Linked DNA regions of Homo sapiens. The protein of the gene in region 2 purifies or fractionates together with the protein of the main gene of each other region. This does not show direct contact. Each region holds a gene or a part of one and is shown on either strand. Other genes may lie near its edges. The genes, in order: ERMP1, TYROBP and SIRPB1.

Region 1 (3,649 bases), on a different chromosome or scaffold from region 2:
AGATGGTAATAGATCCTTCAGGGGTCTTTCGTTGTTGTCTTGGTTTGCCAACTCCCTTGGCAACTTGTATGTACAACTTATTTGAAGTTAAAATTTGGCTCTGGCCTGGCAAGAATGTAGGTGGCAAAATTTTCATGACCTCCCAAACTCAATATTCCTATCCTTGCTGTGTGACTTGTAATGCCTACCTGTGGAGTAATATACTTCTTCAATCATTATGTATCGAATTATGTACCAAAGCTATAGACTGTGTAAGAATTTGGAAGAGAATTTATATCAGTCGTTTGTAAATGTGACAAAGCAATCGTGCCACTGCTTTGACATTTTGTCTTTTAGGAATTTATTAAAGAAATAGGTCGAAAGCAAGGTTGATCTTTAAAGCAAAATGACTTTTTTTTTTCTATATATATGTTTTAGGAATAGACTTAGCTTTTATTGAGAATGGATACATTTATCACACCAAGTATGACACAGCGGACAGAATTCTAACAGATTCCATTCAGAGAGCAGGTTGGTATTCCAATTTAGACTTTTGATATACACTAAGATGGAATGTTAGGGATGATACATAAACTTGTAAATATTCTGTGGCCTGTGCATTAGAGAGGCAGTATGCAATGTGAATGAGCTAGGGCTTTGGAGTTGGAGAGATGAGATCTTGAATTTTAGTCTTGTAGTCTAGTGTAGCAATTAAGGTCAGGAATATTCATTGTGAGGAAATGAAAAAGGAGTTGGCCCAGGGTTGGGAGGATTGCTGAGTGGTAAGAATGTAGCTCTGTTAGTCTCCCATGATGTTTTCCTGTGGAACTCTGCTAGCTCTCCTCAATTTTTAACACATGTGTGACAGCTTGTTCAGCATCTCTGAGCTTCGTGAAAGGCCTTTGTCTCTTGGTTCACCACTAAATTTCTGATATCTAGAAGAGTGTCTAGTACAGTTAATATATATTATTAAATGAATGGGTACCAAGAAACAGCCATTGGATTTGTCAACAATGAAGGTACAATTGATCACAGAGAATAGTTCTAATAGAAGGGAAAAGATACAGGCCAGTTGGCTGAGCGTCTGAGTGGAGAGGAAATGGAGAAAGGCAGGGGATGGACCTTATTTGAGAAATTTAGTAAAAAAAGTGAGGGAGAGCAGTAGGATGGTAGAAAGCGATTTCTGTTCACATTCTTTCTAACCATTTCTTCATTCAAACAGTATATGGTTTATTTCTGCTTTAAATAGTGGTATGTGTAAATCACAAATAGTTTATTCAGCCTTTTTATCTTTTTCCTTTTCTTTCTTTTTTTTTTTGTTTTTACTAATAGGTGACAACATTTTAGCAGTTCTTAAGCATCTAGCTACATCTGATATGCTGGCTGCTGCTTCTAAGTATCGACATGGAAACATGGTCTTCTTTGATGTGCTGGGCCTGTTTGTCATTGCCTACCCCTCTCGTATTGGCTCAATCATAAACTACATGGTGGTAATGGGTGTTGTTTTGTACCTGGGCAAAAAATTTTTGCAGCCCAAACATAAGAGTAAGTATTTTCCTCTAAAACTACAAATACTGGCATTGCTGTAGAATGTGCTTGAAGTTTTTCAGTCAGTTTGTTTATATCTTCCCAGAAAGCTAAAAATCTTAAGACAATGTTTGCTTTATATTGTAAGAAATTTTTAAATATTAAATTAATATGCTTATTTTACTTTTAGTCTTGGTGAAGCAGTCAATTTTTATATATTTAGGCACTCCATAAAAGTACCACATAGAAACTATTGAAAAATGGTTTGTACAGATTGACTTCTAATGAAAAGTCCCATTAAAAAGTCCACACTACAGACCAATAGCTAGTATGGACCAGTGTCACGAAGTATGAATGAACTGCTTGTGGTTAAACTGTTTCTTTTATTTGAAATATTTCTGCTTGAAATGTTTCAGAGTCTAAGTTGTTGTGTGCTGTTACGAGATAAAATATTTAGCAGCAGTTTAAATAATTCTTTATCAACGCTTATTTTCCCCACACTCCTTATCTTCTTATGTTACCTTATTTTAACAACATTTTATATGGAACTTTGCCTTCCATTCTTGCTAATATTTTGATACACAAAGCATACCAAAAGTGAAGAAGATTAAGACTATCCTCTTCCTTCATAAGGAATGTACCTGAACTATTCCTAGAAGATTTATCTTTTTGAGTGTTTAGTATCTAGAGACTCTTAATAAATGTTACCTGAATATTATTATTTGATACCTCCCTTGTTCTTGTGTTTGGCCAATCTCAACACTAGGACATTTTCATACTTTTCAAGTACAGTGGGGAGTTTTTTGTTTTAATGTTTGCCCATTTAGCTCTACTGACTGGTTATATAACTGATTTGATGAAGATGGTGATTTCAACTTTTTGTTTTCTCTTCATTAGCTGGTAACTACAAGAAGGACTTCTTGTGTGGACTTGGCATCACTTTGATCAGCTGGTTCACTAGCCTTGTTACCGTTCTCATTATAGCAGTGTTCATCTCTCTTATTGGACAGTCTCTCTCATGGTATAACCACTTCTATGTCTCCGTTTGTCTGTATGGAACTGCAACTGTAGCCAAAATAATACTTATACATACTCTTGCGAAAAGATTTTATTACATGGTAAGTGTTTGGTATATTTGTTGATTTCTTTCTGTTGCCTCCAGGGACTGAAGATGAACTTAAGTGTGATTCATTGTATTTGGCCTTTTGAGTGCTAAAAAATTGTTCAGCATGGTTATGGAAAACGCACCTACACTGTGTTAATTTTCTGAAAGATTTCTTATTCTGAGGGTAATGTCACAAAATTCAAATGAGGTTATAAAGCCGGGCTGTTAACAGTGTTAGGGTGGTGGTGACTGGAAGGCTTGTTAGCACAGCCTTCTACTGAATTTGCTGCAGTGTTTGTAAATATGTCCTGGGCTCACCCACTTATTTATGTTATTTGAATATCTGTTCTCCATTGGAGTGTAAGCTCCTTGAGGATAGGGATTGTTTTATTTATTTCTGTATCCTCTGTGCTTAGGTAGTGTCTGACACACAGCATTAACACACAGCAAGTATTTGTTGCCTAAAAGAATGTTGTACTTAAAGTTTTTTCAGTTTTTCCCTCACTGTTTTTTCTTTTTAACTGTATATTGTTGATTCAGATTCTGCATGCATGTATGTCATTGGAGTTAAAAGACACATTGCTAAGGAAAACAGAGGGAAGGGAAATAGGGTTCCAAATGATTTATACTGAGAATATTGTTATATTATTATGGTTTCAAATGCATAAATTTGTTTGGCAAAAATAAAATTAGAAATTAGGGCTGGCCGGGCGCGGTGGCTCACGCCTGTAATCCCAGCACTTTGGGAGGCTGAGGTGGGCGGATCACAAGGTCAGGAGATCGAGACCATCCTGGCTAACACGGTGAAACCCCGTCTCTACTAAAAATACAAAAAATTAGCCGGGCGAGGTGGCGGCGCCTGTAGTCCCAGCTGCTCGGGAGGCTGAGGCAGGAGAATGGCGTGAACCCGGGAGGCGGAGCCTGCAGTGAGCTGAGATTGAGCCACTGCACTCCAGCTGGGGCGACAGCGAGATTCTGTCTCAAAAAAAAGAAATTAGGGCTATGGGCTGGGTGCTGTGGCTCATGCCTGTAATCCCA
Region 2 (3,749 bases):
CTGCCCCCTCGCCCACTCTGCTCCAACACATTGGGTGGCCTGGTGTGCCCGGGAGGACCTACAGGGTCTGTTCCCTCCATGCTCGCTCTAGACACAATGGGAGAGGCTTGGGTTTTTAAGGGAGGGGACTCAGCCAGGCCTGAACAGTGGTGACCGTGGGCTGAGCTGGGACCTGACCCTCCTCCAGGCTCCAAATCTCCTCTCCTCCCTTCCCCCACAGGCCACTGGGCATCTGCCCTGTGACCAGAATCCAGTTTCCCCTTTTTTCTCCTAAGCCCAGGCCCAAGGAGCGGTGGGTGTGACGTGTGGATGGGGGAGGGGGGCTTCCTGCAGCTGTCTCATCCTCCAGCACCCTAACCTCAGGTTCCTCCTTCCCCAGCCCCAGGCTCCAGCTGGGGGCTAGAAGTCCCCGTCTCCTTGGGGTGGCCTCCCTTGGGCCTTGCTCCCAGCCACTTCCTCATTCAGCAGGAGAGCCAGCCACCTGCCTCTCCCCAAGCCGCCAGCCGTGCCTCTGTGTCTGTGCCACTGCCTTACTCTCACCTTTCTCAGCTTTGCCGCTGTTTTCTCCTTCCCCATCTTTCATCTTTGTTTTTCCCCCTGACTCTTCCCTAGTCAAAAACCTGATTTTGGGTCTTGGGTTCCATTTCCACCTTGATTTGCTGTGCAGCCTTAGGCAAGCGTCTCTACCTCTCTGAACAATGGGGATGATAAGAGCATGTGCCCTAGAAGGGCATTGCGGGGACTGAATGATTTAACGCTTGGGACAGAGTGCCTGCATGTCATTAGTGCCCACATGCTGCTGGCTCTTTTAATATCCTTTAAACAGCACAAGTTTCTGATGATTAAATAATCATCATCATAGCTGATGCTTTTAAAAAGCTGACAAGGGTCAGACCCTGGTCTAGGAACTTTAATTCATTTAATCCCCACAACTCTAAAAAGTAGGTCCCATTTTACTCCCAATTTTACAGATGAAGAAACTGAGGTTGGAGCTGGGTGCGGTGGCTCACACTTGCAATCCTAGCACTTCGGGAGGCCAAGGTGGGTGGATCACCTGAGGTCAGGAGTTTGAGACCAGCTGGCCAACATGGTGAAACCCTGTCTCTACTAAAAAAAAAAGAAAAAAAAATACAAAAAATTAGCCGGGCATGGTGGCAGGCGCCTATAATCCCAGCTACTTGGGAGGCTGAGGCAGGAGAATCACTTGAACCCGGGAGGCAGAGGTTGCAGTGAGCCGAGACCGTGCCATTGCACTCAAGGTTGACCAGCCAGGAAGAGGCAGAGCTGGTTTCAATCAGCCAGAGGAAGGTCATGACACTGACCCTCCTGTTAAAACGATGTCTGACCCCTGACTGGGGACGGAGGTGAAGTTTGTGCTTCACGTACCCTTTGCCCTTCACGTCTAGTTGCTGGGGGCCTGTGGCATGGCCCCTGGGTGTCTGGGCCTGATTCTTTCTTGGGTTTTGTTTCTGTCTCTCCTCCCCTGTCTCCTCCTCCCTTCTGCCACCACCCGCCTCAGACTTCCTCCTTCACTTGCCTGGACGCTGCGCCACATCCCACCGGCCCTTACACTGTGGTGTCCAGCAGCATCCGGCTTCATGGGGGGACTTGAACCCTGCAGCAGGCTCCTGCTCCTGCCTCTCCTGCTGGCTGTAAGTGGTGAGTTAGGGGCTTCCGTGGCTGCCTCCCGGGTCCCTGGGCTCAGCTTGGGGCAGGGCAGGGAGTGGGGTGGAACGAGAGAACCAAAAGTGGGTGTTGGGATGGGAGCAGGTCCCCAACCTCCCAAAGCCTGTGGGTTTCTCCCAGAGCCCAAGCCCCCAAGTTTTGTCGTCCGCTACAAGCAGGGGAGAAGAGACATCTAAGTGTGTTGCCACAGGACAAGTTGTGCAGAAGTAACGCACATAGTCCGGTGGCCCAGACGCCAGCCCCCTGAGTCCCGCCAGACACGCTCTCCCCCTTGCTAACCTCTTGGCTGTCAGGATCCACCTTCCCTGGCTTCTAAACTTGCCTCCCCCACCCCCGTCATAACTCTGTGCCTCAGTTTACCTTCTTTTTCCTCCTCAGGTCTCCGTCCTGTCCAGGCCCAGGCCCAGAGCGGTAGGCCTAGACCCAGCAGTCCCTCTCTCTACCTCCCAGAGACCTCCCTGTCTCCGTCTCTCCCACACCCTTTCCAAACCTCCCTGCCGCTGACCCCCCTCCCCACAGTTCCCAGCACACACTGACCTCCCCTGACCCCTGTGCTGCAGATTGCAGTTGCTCTACGGTGAGCCCGGGCGTGCTGGCAGGGATCGTGATGGGAGACCTGGTGCTGACAGTGCTCATTGCCCTGGCCGTGTACTTCCTGGGCCGGCTGGTCCCTCGGGGGCGAGGGGCTGCGGAGGGTGAGTGGGGCTAGCAGGGGACATCCTGAGGACTTGCCTAGATGGGGGTGGGGGGCTGGGTAAACTCCCAGATCTCAAACATCCAAAGGGATGGTAATGGAGGTGCTGATTTGGAATGACAAAACACCCTCAACTCACCACTCTGCCTGTCTCTGCACCCCACAACACCCCTCACCTCCAGCAGCGACCCGGAAACAGCGTATCACTGAGACCGAGTCGCCTTATCAGGTGAGAAAACCAGACTGTCCTCCTCACATTTCACTCCTGCCAGGGATATCTGCCCCAGATACTCCTTCATGCCATCAGAGGGACCTCAAAGCCACTCTGCCTAAAGCACCCCCAAACCTTGAAGGCACATGGGACATCTGTCCAAAACTGGGCCGAATGATCAACCACAAGCTTATGGTCAGCTTAAAATGTGTGAAGAGGGGCTGGGCACGGTGACTCAAACCTGTAATCCCAGCACTTTGGGAGACAGAGGCGGGTGGATCACTTGAGGTCAGGAGTTCGAGACCAACATGGTGAAACCCTGTCTCTACTAAAAATACAAAATTAGCTGGGCGTGGTAACGCATGCCTGTAATCCCAGCTACTTGGGAGGCTGAGGCAGGAGAATCCTTTGACCCAGGAGGCGGAGGTTGCAGTGAGCCAAGATCACGCAATTGCACTCCAGCCTGGGCAACAAGAGGAAAACTCTGTCAAAAAAAAAAAAGCGTGAAGAGTTAAAAAGAAAAAAAAAAGGGTGGCTTTGCCTTTGTAAGTGTAAACACAGGCCTTGCCAGAAGTCAGGCCAGGAATTTTCTGGAAGAAACCCAGCCCTAGGACGACTGATTTCTGGGAGACGCTCTCAGTAGGGCAGAGAATGTCATTCAGCCCTACCTTGGTAACTCTAAAGAGAGGAGTCCTAGAATCTCTTTTTTGGGTTTGAGGACCCTTCATCCCTTTGAGAAACTAAGAAAATCTAGACTCCCAGAAAAATCTACACAAAAAATACAAAATTGTGCATATAATCTGAGAGCAGTGTAAATGTTCTTTATAATTAAAAAAAATTTTTTTTTGGCCAGGCATGGTGGCACACACCTGTAATCCCAGCACTTTGGGAGGCCAAGGTGGGTGGATCACGAGGTCAGGAGTTCAAGACCAGCCAGGCCAGGATGGTGAAACCCCATCTCTACTAAAAATACAAAAATTAGCTGGGCATGGTGTCATGCGCCTGTAATTCCAGCTTCTCAGGAGGCTGAGGCAAGAGAATCGCTTGAACCCAGGGGGCGGAGGTTGCAGTGAGCCTGGGCGACAGAGTGAGACTCCATCTCAAAAAAAAAAAAAAGACAGGGGTCTCACTATGTTGCCCCAGCTGGTCTCAAACTCC
Region 3 (3,649 bases), on a different chromosome or scaffold from region 2:
TAACTCTGAAGTCAACTGACAATCTTTGAGTGGTTTGACCCAAATGTCTCCTTCCACATTTCAGGGTCCCACAACTTCCCCATCAGGGCCCTATCCCAGCATAGCAGCCATTGAAACTGAGATTCATGCTCCGCTGTGATTCTGCTACTCTTCTATGATGCCCAGGACCCAATTCTCTATTCCTTCTGCCCTGTGGCTCCAAGAAATAAGAATCTGCAGTGCTGCCAAGAAGTCCTCTGGCTTCCAGCTGAACTTTAACTCATGATGAATCACTCTTAGTTTCTCATTGCCTTCCTCCCAAGAGTTCATGCCCAGCAACAGCTAACACCTTAGTTCTTATAACGACCATTTCCCAATCTGTTTTCAAAAGGCTAATGGCAAGGAATTTCCTTCCTGTGGTAACACTATCCCAGTTTAGTGCCAGTGAAAGTGTTATCAATCGCAACACAACAGCAAGTCACGGCTTCTCCAGTCCCATTCACCACCAGCCCTGGGGTCCTCATTGCTAGCTGATGAGTAATCAGATTCCCAACTTATATTTTAGAGTCTTCTTTCCAGACCACTTCCCAAGGACAGTTTCTCTGGGAGGCCACCTGAGGATGCATAAAGCAATGCAGGAGGCATCCTAGAGTGCTGTCAGGGTCAACATGCCTCAGGAATGAGGAGGCAGGAGTGTAGGAGGAGGGAGGTGCTGAGCCACAGTGCAGGCAGTACAAAGATGCAGCTGCTCTTGCAGAGAGGCAAAAGGCCGGAGGGTCCTGTAGATTTTTTTCAAATTGAGGGGAAGGGCTGGCCCTTCATATTCCCAATGCAGTCTATCTCTCATGTGGGCTGCCCCTTAGAAGGAATAAACTTGGGCAGTGCAGCTCTCCTCAAAGGAGAGAAAGCCCCAGAGAGCCACCCATCTGAGAACTGCCGGCCTGCAACACTCCAACACTCCAGCGGCTATAGATGCTGAGGTCTCCATTCCTTCCTTAAGGACCCACCAGCACCATTTTATTTTAAAAAAAATTTTTTTTAATACCTTTGTTACTTTTAACATCCAAAACCCCTTATTTAAAAAATGCAAACAGTCCCAACATGAGCTTCCGTAGATCTGACTCTCTGTGTCCAACAGAAAGATTTCAGATGACATCTGCACTGGGGTTGAGGTAGGAGAGATGATGTCTGAGGCCCTTCCAAGCCCGAGGCACATTCCCTGACTCACCAGGGAATTTTCCAGCCAGCAGGTTTAATTGGGTCTTGTCCCTGGAGGGCTCCCTGAGATCATGAGAATATGGGGTCCTCTCCCTGCCCCTGGGGCTAAGAAGGGCAGCATGCAACTCTCTCACTCTGAATCCATCCTCACACCACCTGCCCACCCTTTACTAATCATTCTCATGATCCTGGAGTGTTGGACTTGTCTTGGACTCAGGAGTCACCCTTGGGGACATAATGATGGGCTTCCCTAGGTTTGGATCCTACTAATCTCCTGACACTCCCTAAACTCTCTGGCCTCAGTTTCCCCATCAGAATGGAATAATAATCCCTGCCCCATGGGCGTGTGAGGATCAAGTGAGGAACCCAGTTGCCACATATATGAATACCTGAGCACACACTCTCTCCACCTTTTCCCTCCAGGAGGATAAACTGGCAGCCTGGGACAGGGTGAGTGAGAATGAGGAGCCACTTTCCCTGGCCTTTGCTTTCGGCTGGAGTCAGGAAAGCCAGAGCAGGATGCAAGTTCAAAAGCTTCAGAGGATTGATGGGCCCAGGTAGCCTCAGATGGGGTAAGTGGAGGCCCCTGGGATGAGCTCCCAGGTGGCCCCTCTCATGGCTCCTCCTCTTCCCTGATTTCCAGAAGCAGCGCTGGCTCCTACTGCTCCACTCCTCGTAGCTCTCCTCCTGGGCCCCAAGCTGCTACTGGTGGTTGGTGTCTCTGCCATCTACATCTGCTGGAAACAGAAGGCCTGACTGTAAGTTTAGGAGAGGGAGGACTGACCAAGGGCTCCTCCAGAAAGGCAAGGCCAGCAGGAGGGCCCAGCTCACATGCCATGCAGCTTCAGGGTCAGTGGAGTTTACAGAAGGTGACAGGGCTCCCTCAGGATACTCAGGAGTCTCAGGGAACCCTGTATGGGGCTCCCAACCCCCAGGGAGTGTGCAGGAGTTGGGATGGTCAAGGGTATTACAGGAGGTGGGATGCTTCAAGGGGGTTCAAAGTTGTCCCCAGTGGCCTAGGAGTCCCATGGAAAAGGTGGACAGAGGGGTCTAAGTGAGGGCCAACTGAGTGGGTGGTCCCTTGGAGGCCACTGCTGGGACTCCATGGGTTCAAAGTAATCCCCACCGTAGTGTTGAGAATTCCCAGATAGGCTGCTCTGAGGGCTGTTCCTGCTCTGACCTTCTGTGTGCTTGAGTGGAAAGCGGGGAAGAGGGAGCATCAGGACTTGGAAGAAGTGCTGAGCTGGCAGAGTCCTATCTCAGGTCTGCCTGTCCACCCATAACAGGCATCCCAAGAGGAGACCAGCACTAGGGACATATCAGGCTCTCAGGAAACATTTCTTAAATGATGAGCAGATGAATGAATGTGGATGTGTTTTCCAACAGCTCCTTCCTTCCTTCCCTGCCATGTAGGACCCTCAGTCTCTGCTGCCTCCTCCTTTCTTGAGAAGCTCAGCCTGAGAGAAGGAGCTGGCGAGAACCTTCCCCACACTCAGCTCCAAACGCCTCCTCTCCCAGGTCATCTGCCTGCCCACACGCTCCTGTTCCACCTTCACAAGACCATGATGCCCCAAAGCAGTGTCTCTATTCACGGTCCTGAGCAGGGGCCATGGGATTGGGCTCTGGGCACTGACTCATGGCACCTCCCTAGAAGGTGAGAAACACTCCAAATCTAAACACACCAGGACTTCTCCCATCCGTCGCCTTGGGACTGGCCATAAACCACAGACTCTCTCCAGGCTCTCAAGAGTTATCCTGTCTTCTGGATTCCTGCCTACCCCAACTCCCCCAGCCTTGTTGAGGTTCTCTACTGCCTCCTGAATACACATGAACCCCTATACCAATTTTAAGAAAAAAATGATTCTCTTTCCTCTTTGTCCAAGCATCCTATCCCTCAAACCCAAAAAGAAAGAAGCTCTCCCTTCTCTCTCTGTGATGGAGACAGTATTTCTTCTAGTATCCTGCAGCCTTCCCAGTCCTGCTGCTTGTGGTAGAAATGCTGCCACAGCCCAACATTGAGGAGCCCTCGATGACTGCCCTTTACAACTCATATTCAGTTCTGCCTCCAAAATGCATGTGTCCACTTACATGAGATGGTAAATGTTTAACAATGGACTTTCTGAAAGGGAAAAACCAAAAGCTGTTTTGCAGTGCTTGCCAATTTCTCTAGTGTAATAACTCCCAACCTGACCAATTTCACACTGCCAACAGTTAAACAACCAGATTGCAAGATTCCTGAAATTTAACAATTGGTTTTCAGGGCCCAGTCCAAGCCTGCTGCTGGAAACCTCAGAGTTAAATCCCTATTCTCCACACCTCTCACCTCCACCACCCCTCCCTGTCCCAGCCAGCATCATCTCTTTGGGGACCACTCCTCTGGCTTTCATTTTTCAGCCACAGTGATTCTTTGGAAAAGTCAAATCATATCACTTCTCTGCTTCTTCCCCAACAC

Evidence for each region.
Region 1: the proteins of TYROBP (region 2) and ERMP1 purify together in Homo sapiens (co-immunoprecipitation; 2 studies listed by BioGRID and IntAct, with this or other methods). This does not show direct contact.
Region 3: the proteins of TYROBP (region 2) and SIRPB1 purify together in Homo sapiens (affinity purification with western blotting; 2 studies listed by BioGRID). This does not show direct contact.

What each region holds. Positions count from the first base shown.
Region 1 is NC_000009.12:5,808,986-5,812,634, reverse strand, and holds part of ERMP1 (endoplasmic reticulum metallopeptidase 1), read left to right. Parts: intron 1-417; coding exon 418-510; intron 511-1,311; coding exon 1,312-1,524; intron 1,525-2,403; coding exon 2,404-2,624; intron 2,625-3,649. UniProt on the Homo sapiens protein: Within the ovary, required for the organization of somatic cells and oocytes into discrete follicular structures.
Region 2 is NC_000019.10:35,906,078-35,909,826, reverse strand, and holds the start of TYROBP (TYRO protein tyrosine kinase-binding protein isoform 1 precursor), read left to right. Parts: upstream 1-1,531; 5' UTR 1,532-1,598; coding exon 1,599-1,659; intron 1,660-2,064; coding exon 2,065-2,097; intron 2,098-2,246; coding exon 2,247-2,381; intron 2,382-2,562; coding exon 2,563-2,609; intron 2,610-3,749. UniProt on the Homo sapiens protein: Adapter protein which non-covalently associates with activating receptors found on the surface of a variety of immune cells to mediate signaling and cell activation following ligand binding by the receptors.
Region 3 is NC_000020.11:1,564,459-1,568,107, reverse strand, and holds part of SIRPB1 (signal-regulatory protein beta-1 isoform 1 precursor), read left to right. Parts: intron 1-1,840; coding exon 1,841-1,953; 3' UTR 1,954-1,955; intron 1,956-2,610; 3' UTR 2,611-3,649. UniProt on the Homo sapiens protein: Immunoglobulin-like cell surface receptor involved in the negative regulation of receptor tyrosine kinase-coupled signaling processes.